Linked DNA regions of Homo sapiens. The protein of the gene in region 1 purifies or fractionates together with the protein of each later gene. This does not show direct contact. Each region holds a gene or a part of one and is shown on either strand. Other genes may lie near its edges.

Region 1 (3,555 bases):
GATAAAATCAGAACAAGAAGTGGAAAAAAGCAACTGAGAAAAATGAAGACAAATTAAATACTAGTAAAAAAAAACTAGGTCAGGGAGAATTCTAAGTTTTGGGTCCAAAAATTAAAAAACAAAAAACAAAAACTCGGTAGCAGGGAACATCTGTAGGGTTGTGCTATAAAAAGATCTACTTCTGGCTGTATGTATGGCAAATGAGTGTTCTGAAAAATCCTCCTTCTACCAAAAAGCCTACATACAGTGAACTGCAAACGGAACTAGTAAGCTAGCCTGTAACCACAGCTACCCTAAAGATATCTGCCAAGATGAGGAACTACAGTCAACTTATAGATATCTGCCAATATCAGAAAGAAGAGCCTTAAATTTTTTTATTCTGGAGTTGGGGTCTCACTATGTTGCCTAGCCTGGACTTAAACTCCTGGGTTCAAGCGATCTTCCTGCCTCAGCCTCCCAAATAGCTGGTACTACAGACACACGCCACCACACCTGGCTGTTGGATTTTGACGGCACCCCGAGGGACAGAAGACAACGCCTTAGGCCCATATAAGGTGGGGAGACAGATTCTAGACATTGCAGAGTAACCCGAACAGACTAACCTATCCTCAGTTAGCAACTATAAAACCTAGACAAAACAAAAAAAATAGGTATTTGAAGGTGTGGAAGAGTGACCAAAAGTAAGTATGAACTGGATGAAGTCTATATGTGAAAAGAGATTTGCTGGAGGGCAACTTCCCAAACAGCATGGCTCATGAAGGCAGAAAGCCACAGGCTTACTGGCTTGAGGAATTAGTGCAAAGTGGGCAGAACAGCTAGGAAATTAGGGGGGAAATCTTGGAAGAGAAGGAACTACAAAAGAGATGAACCTCAAAATCTACATACAAACCCTAGTCAAATCCTTGGCTAACTGTTAAATGACACATGTGCAGAGAAAATACCATCAGGCCAATTAAAAAAATGGCAGCTAGAAACTAAAAGAACTGAGCAAAGATTGTAGCTGCCGTCCACTGCAAAGGAGACAGTTTGGAGTTCAGCTATGTTAACTACCTGCTAGAATAAAAACTAACACACTTAAGAGGAATACAGTGTAACAGAACTCAAAGTCTCTACAGTGTATCATTCATGATGCGTAGTAACAATTTTAAAAAGTGACCAGACAGGTAAATAAACAGGAAAATGTAATACACACTGAAGAAAAAGCTGTCAATAGAAACCAATCCTGTGGTGAATCCAATGTTGCAATTAGCAGACAGGACTTCAAAGCACTAATTACATATCATAAATATTTTCAAGAAGAGGAAAATGTCTCATAATGAACAGATGGGAAATCTCAGCAGAGAAATGTAAGCTATTAAATGGAAATTTTAGAGTTGAAAAACAAAATAAACCAGCTAAAACAAAAAATCCACAATTGATAGTAACTGATAGAAAAATACAAACACAAAAAACCCAGAATACAGGCGATCTAAGATCTAAACACCTTGACCTCACTGACTTTTATAAAACACTACCTTATATAGCTACAGAATATACGTTCTCTTCAAGTGCAAAGGAAACATTCAGAAGATAGACTATCCACTGGGCCATAAAACACACCTTAACAAATTTCATTTTTATTATTGTTTTTTGATACATGGTCTCACTCTGTCATCCAGGCTGGAGTGCAGTGGTGCAATCACAGCACATTGCAGCCTCGACCTCCCTGGGCTCAGTGATCCTCCCACCTCAGCCTCCACAGTAGCTGGGACTATAGGCGTGTGCCACCATGCCCGACTAATTTTTGTATTTTTTTGTAGAGACAGGGTTTTGCCATGTTGCCCAGGCTGGTCTCAAACTCCTAGGCTCAAGCAATCCGTCTGCCTTGGGCTCCCAAAATGTTGGGATTACAGGCATGAGCCACTGTGCCTGGCCAACAAATTTCAAAAGATCAAAATATTACAGTATATTATCTGACCAAAATGGAATTAAATTATAAGTAAATAGCAGTAAGATATCTAGAAAAGTCCAAATATTTGGAATTAATGCACTCCTAAATAACCCATGGAGCAAAGAATAAACCAAAAGGATAATTAGAAAATATTTTGAACAAAATCCAACATACATTCCTGAAAACAAAACTCTCAGCAAAACAGGAATAGAAGGGAACTTTAACTCCATAAAGGATATCTACAAAAAACCTATACAGCTACAACACATTTAATAAATGTGTTGTAAAAACTAAATGTTTTCTTCCTGAGATTAGGAACAAAGCAAAGATGTCTGCTCTCACTACTTCTATTCAACATCTGCACTGAAGTGCTAGCTAATGCAACAGGGCAAGGAAAAGAAACAAAAAGCATCTAGATTGTAAAGTAAGAAATTAAACTGTATGCAAAGATGGAAGACCCTCTAGGTACAAAATCTGATGGAATCTATAAAAAGCTATTGTACAAAGTGAGCTTTACCTGAAGGAAAACAACTGACAATACAGTGTAACAGAACTCAAAGTCTCTACAGTATATCATTCATGATGTCCAGTAACAATTTAAAAAAGTGACCAGACAGGTAAATAAACAGGAAAATGTAATACACACTGAAGAAAAAGCTGCCAATATAGAAACCAATCCTGTGGTGAATCCAATGTTGCAATTAACAGACAGGAAGGACTTCAAAGCACCAATTACATATCACAAATATTTTCAAGAAGAGGAAAATATCTCATAATGAACAGATGGGAAATCTCAGCAGAGAAATTAAGCTATTAAATGGAAATAGCTCAAGCAATGGAAATGCCAGTGATAACATTTAAACTTTCAAGTGTAAATTAGAATTCTGAAAAACTGTGAACTCTTTAACTTCCCATTATTTAAAGAGTTTTGTGATAAGACCGGAAGTGATGTTAACAAAAGTGATTTTCTGATATTGTATAGTGGAAATATGTCAACATTTGGAAGGTCTGAACAACTCAGCAAACCAATATTTTACAAATGACCAATGCATGATGTTATAAAATCATGCATGGGTAAAAGATCCACTCAAAGTATTAAAAAAATTAATATAACAGTAAGGAAAGTTCTTTGATCTGGTTTCAGGTTCCACATAGCTCACCTTTAAGAAACCAGCACTTGTTGAGTTTTTGTGTAACATTAAGAAATATAATATGCCTTCTCTTTCTAACTACCTATGTGTGAGGCTAAATTTTCTTTCTATACTTCAACTGAACAAATCACAACAGACAAATACAGAGTCAAGTTACCTATTATTAAGTCAGACATTAATGAGATTTGCAAAAATGTAAATCAATGCCATCCTTCTGTTTTTTCACTTGGAAAATGTAATTATTTTTCATTTAAATATACAGTAATTATGTTAACATAATTAGTTTATTTTTTTTTGAATGAATAAATACTTTTTAAATGTCTGAGTTTTAATTTATAATATGGTAAATATCAATATATATAATCCACATCAACAAAAGCTTTTTGAGGTCATCAGTAATTTTTAAGAGCGTAGGCCAGGCACGGTGGCTCAAGCGTGTAATCCCAGCACTTTGGGAAATCGAGGCAGACAATC
Region 2 (3,555 bases), on another chromosome or scaffold:
ACTCAAAGAAACAAATTAATGTGAAGAAAAGAATATAGAAGGGGCAGCAGGGAATGGGAAAGAGACTGTAACAAGTGGTGCTACACACCTGTGATGTCAGAAAAAAGGTTAGTTGAGAGAAGTGAAGACCTGACTGCTTGACACTGGAATTATTTTTTTTTAGGTAGGGTCTTGCTCTGTCATCCAAGTGGGAGTGCAGTGGTGCAATCCTGACTCACTGCAGCCCCGACCTTCTGGGCTCAAGCGAGAAGAGGTCACTCTATGTTGCCAGGCTGGTCTCGAACTCCTGGGCTAAAGCAATCCACCCATCTCACCCTCCCAAAGTAATGGAATTACAGGTATGGCCACCATGCGCAGCACTCTCCCCTTTTTAAATAACTGCTATATCGAGATGTAATTCACAAACCATGTTACACTTTTTTTATTTTATTTTATTTTTTTGAGACAGGGTCTTGCTCTGTTTCCCAGGCTGGAGTGCAGTGACGCAATCACGGCTCACTGCAGCCTCAAATTCCTGGGTTCAAGGAATCCTCTCTCCTTGGCCTCCCAAAGTGCTGGGATTACAGGTATGAGCCACCAAGCCAGGTCTCCGTGTTACTCTTTTTAAGTGTTTAACTCAGTGTTTTACTGTATATTCATTAAGTTGTGCAACTATCCCCACTATTTAGAGTATTTTCATCATATCAGAAAGAAACCCTGTACCCATTAGCAGTTACTCCCCATTCCTCCCTTTTCCTTTCCCTTGGCAACCATTAGTCTACTTTCTATGTCTACGGGTTCTATTCTGGATACTTCATACAATATGTGGTCTGTTGTGCCTGGTTTCTCTCAGATTAATTTTTTTCTTTTTCTGAGACAGGGTCTGGCTCAGACGCCCAGCAGGCTGGAGTGCAGTGGCGAGATCTCAGCTCAGCAACCTCCACCTCCTGGGCTCAAGCAATCCTCCCACGTTAGCCTCCTGAGTAGCTGGGAATACAGGTGCACGTGATTACACACGGCTAAACTTTTTTTTTTTTTTTTTAGATGGAGTTTCGCAATTGTTGTCCAGGCTGGAGTGCAATGGCGTGATCTCGGCTCACTGCAACCTCCGCCTCCCAGGTTCAAGTGATTCTCTTGCCTCAGCCTCCCTAGCAGCTGGGATTACAGGTGCGTGCCACCACATCTGTTAATTTTTCTGTTTTTAGCACAGATGGGGTTTCACTATGTTGGCTAGGCTGGTCTCAAACTCCTGACCTCAGGTGATCCACCCGCCTCAGCCTCCCAAACTGCTGGGATTACAGGCATGAGCCACCATGCCTGGACTAATTTTTGTATTTTTTTAGAGACAGGGTTTCACCACATTGCCCAGCTTGGTTTCAAATTCCCCAACTCAAGTGATCTGTCTGCCTCAGCCTCCCAAAGTGCTGGGATTACAGGTGTGAGCCACCTTGCCCAGACCTAGCTTATATTTTCAAGATTCACCTTGGAATTGTGGCTTGAGGAGCAAAAAAAAATGAGCAGAATTTTAGTGGCTCTCTAGCATATGCAAACATTTTACAAATTTGATGCCAAAAGCTGGCTACGAAAAAATACTTATGCCTACTAACCAAATAAGTGAGCTTAGGCAGAGGCCAAAGGAGGGTCATGGAGAACATTTCACTAAAGGGTAAAAGGGAATGAATGGGTTTATTCTGAGGAAATGGAAGATGATATTGTTAAACAATGAACGAATATGTCCAACCTTCTACTGTAAATCTAATATTTTGGTTTTTATTTTTGTCGTTTTTAAAAATTTAATTTTAAAATAGAGACAAGGGCTAGGCACGGTGGCTCACCAGTAATCCCAGCACTTTGGGAGGCCAAGGTGGGCAAGATCATTTGAGGTCAGAAGTTCGAGACCAGCCTGACCAACATGGTGAAACGCTGTCTCTACCAAAAATGCAAAATAATTACTCGTGCGTGGTGGCGGTCACCTGTAGTCCCAGCTACTTGAGGCTGAGGCAGGAGAATCGCTTGAACCCAGGAGGCAGAGGTTGCAGTGAGCCAAGACTGCACCACTGCACTCCAGCTGGGGCAACATAGTGAGACTCCATCTCAAAAACTAAACTAAACTAAACTAAAATAACAAAACAAAACAAAATAAAATAAAATACAGATAAGGTCTTACTATGTTGCCCAGACTGGTCTTGAACTCCTGGCCTCAAGCAATTCTCCTGCCTCGGCCTCCCAAAGTGTTGGGATTACAGGCGTGAGCCATCATGCCGAACCTAATCTAATATTTGAATCTCTATTACATGCAGCCAAACTGATATCTAAATTAACACAATTCCCAAACTTCTGTCTCCAGCCCAGACCTCTCTTCTGAGCTCTTATACTCAATTCTACACTGGATACCTCAACCTAAGATGTCCTCTAGTTGCCTCGGACACAAGTCCAAAACGGAATTTGACCATCTTTCCCCACAAACCCATTTCTCCTCCAGTGTTCCCATCATTCATCCTAGTGCTCATACCAGAAACCTGGAAGTCATCTTTGACCATTCCTGTTGCCCCACATTCAACAAATTACTTTTCTCAAGTACATCCCTCCTCTTTGCTACCTCCATGTTCAAGCCACCATTCTCTCTCTTCATAAAAGCTTTCTAAATCATCACATGTGCCCCATCCAACTCATTCTGCAGGGCACCCTCAATCATCCTTTGGAAATGCAACTCTGGTCATGCCATGTGCCAGCTGCAAACTTTCAACATCTGGCTGGGCACGGTGGCTCACACTTGTAATCCCGGCACTTTGGGAGGCTGAGATGGGGGGGGGATCACCTGAGGTCGCGAGTTCGAGACCAGCCTGACCAACATGGAGGAACCTCGTCTCTACTAAAAATACAAAAAATTAGCTAGGCGTGGTGGTGCATGCCTGTAATCCCAGCTACCTGGGAGTCTGAGGCAGGAGAATCACTTGAACCAGGGAGGTGGAGGTTGCAGTGAGTCAAGATCATGGTGTTGCACTCCAGCCTAGGCAACAAGAGCAAAACTCTGTCTCAGAAACAAAAACAACAACAACAAAAGAACTTTTCAACATCTCCCAGTGCTATTAGAATTGAGCCCAGCTTCCTAATGCCACCTACAAAGCCCTGGCCTGATGTTCTTATCTCATCCCCTACCACTGCCCACTGCTCTCTCTATTCCATCCACACAAGCCTTCTTTCAGTTCCTTCTTTCCCACCCCACAAACCCAACACGGGCTACTCCTCAGGCTGGAACATACTCCCCAACCTCCATCCCATCTCCACTTGACAGACTGAGTCCAATTTATCCTTTGGGTCTCGATTTCCCCAGGGAAGTGACCCACCACAGTCAATTACACTGCCTGTACTTCTTCACATGGCACTGATCATAATTTAATTATTTGGTGATTATTTAATTAATATCCATATCCCCGACTAAGTTGTAGCGCATAAAAGCAGGGATCATATCTGTTTAATTCAAATCGTATCCCCAGTTGCCAAACACAAATTAAATTAATAAGTATTTGTTATGACTATATCTAGTAGCTAATATTTACTGCACAAAGAATTATA

Evidence for each region.
Region 2: the proteins of BUD13 (region 1) and DHX8 purify together in Homo sapiens (co-immunoprecipitation; one large-scale study listed by IntAct). This does not show direct contact.

The regions. Positions count from the first base shown.
Region 1 is NC_000011.10:116,752,433-116,755,987, forward strand, and holds part of BUD13 (BUD13 homolog), read right to left. Parts: intron 1-3,555. UniProt on the Homo sapiens protein: Involved in pre-mRNA splicing as component of the activated spliceosome. As a component of the minor spliceosome, involved in the splicing of U12-type introns in pre-mRNAs.
Region 2 is NC_000017.11:43,500,963-43,504,517, reverse strand, and holds part of DHX8 (ATP-dependent RNA helicase DHX8), read right to left. Parts: intron 1-3,555.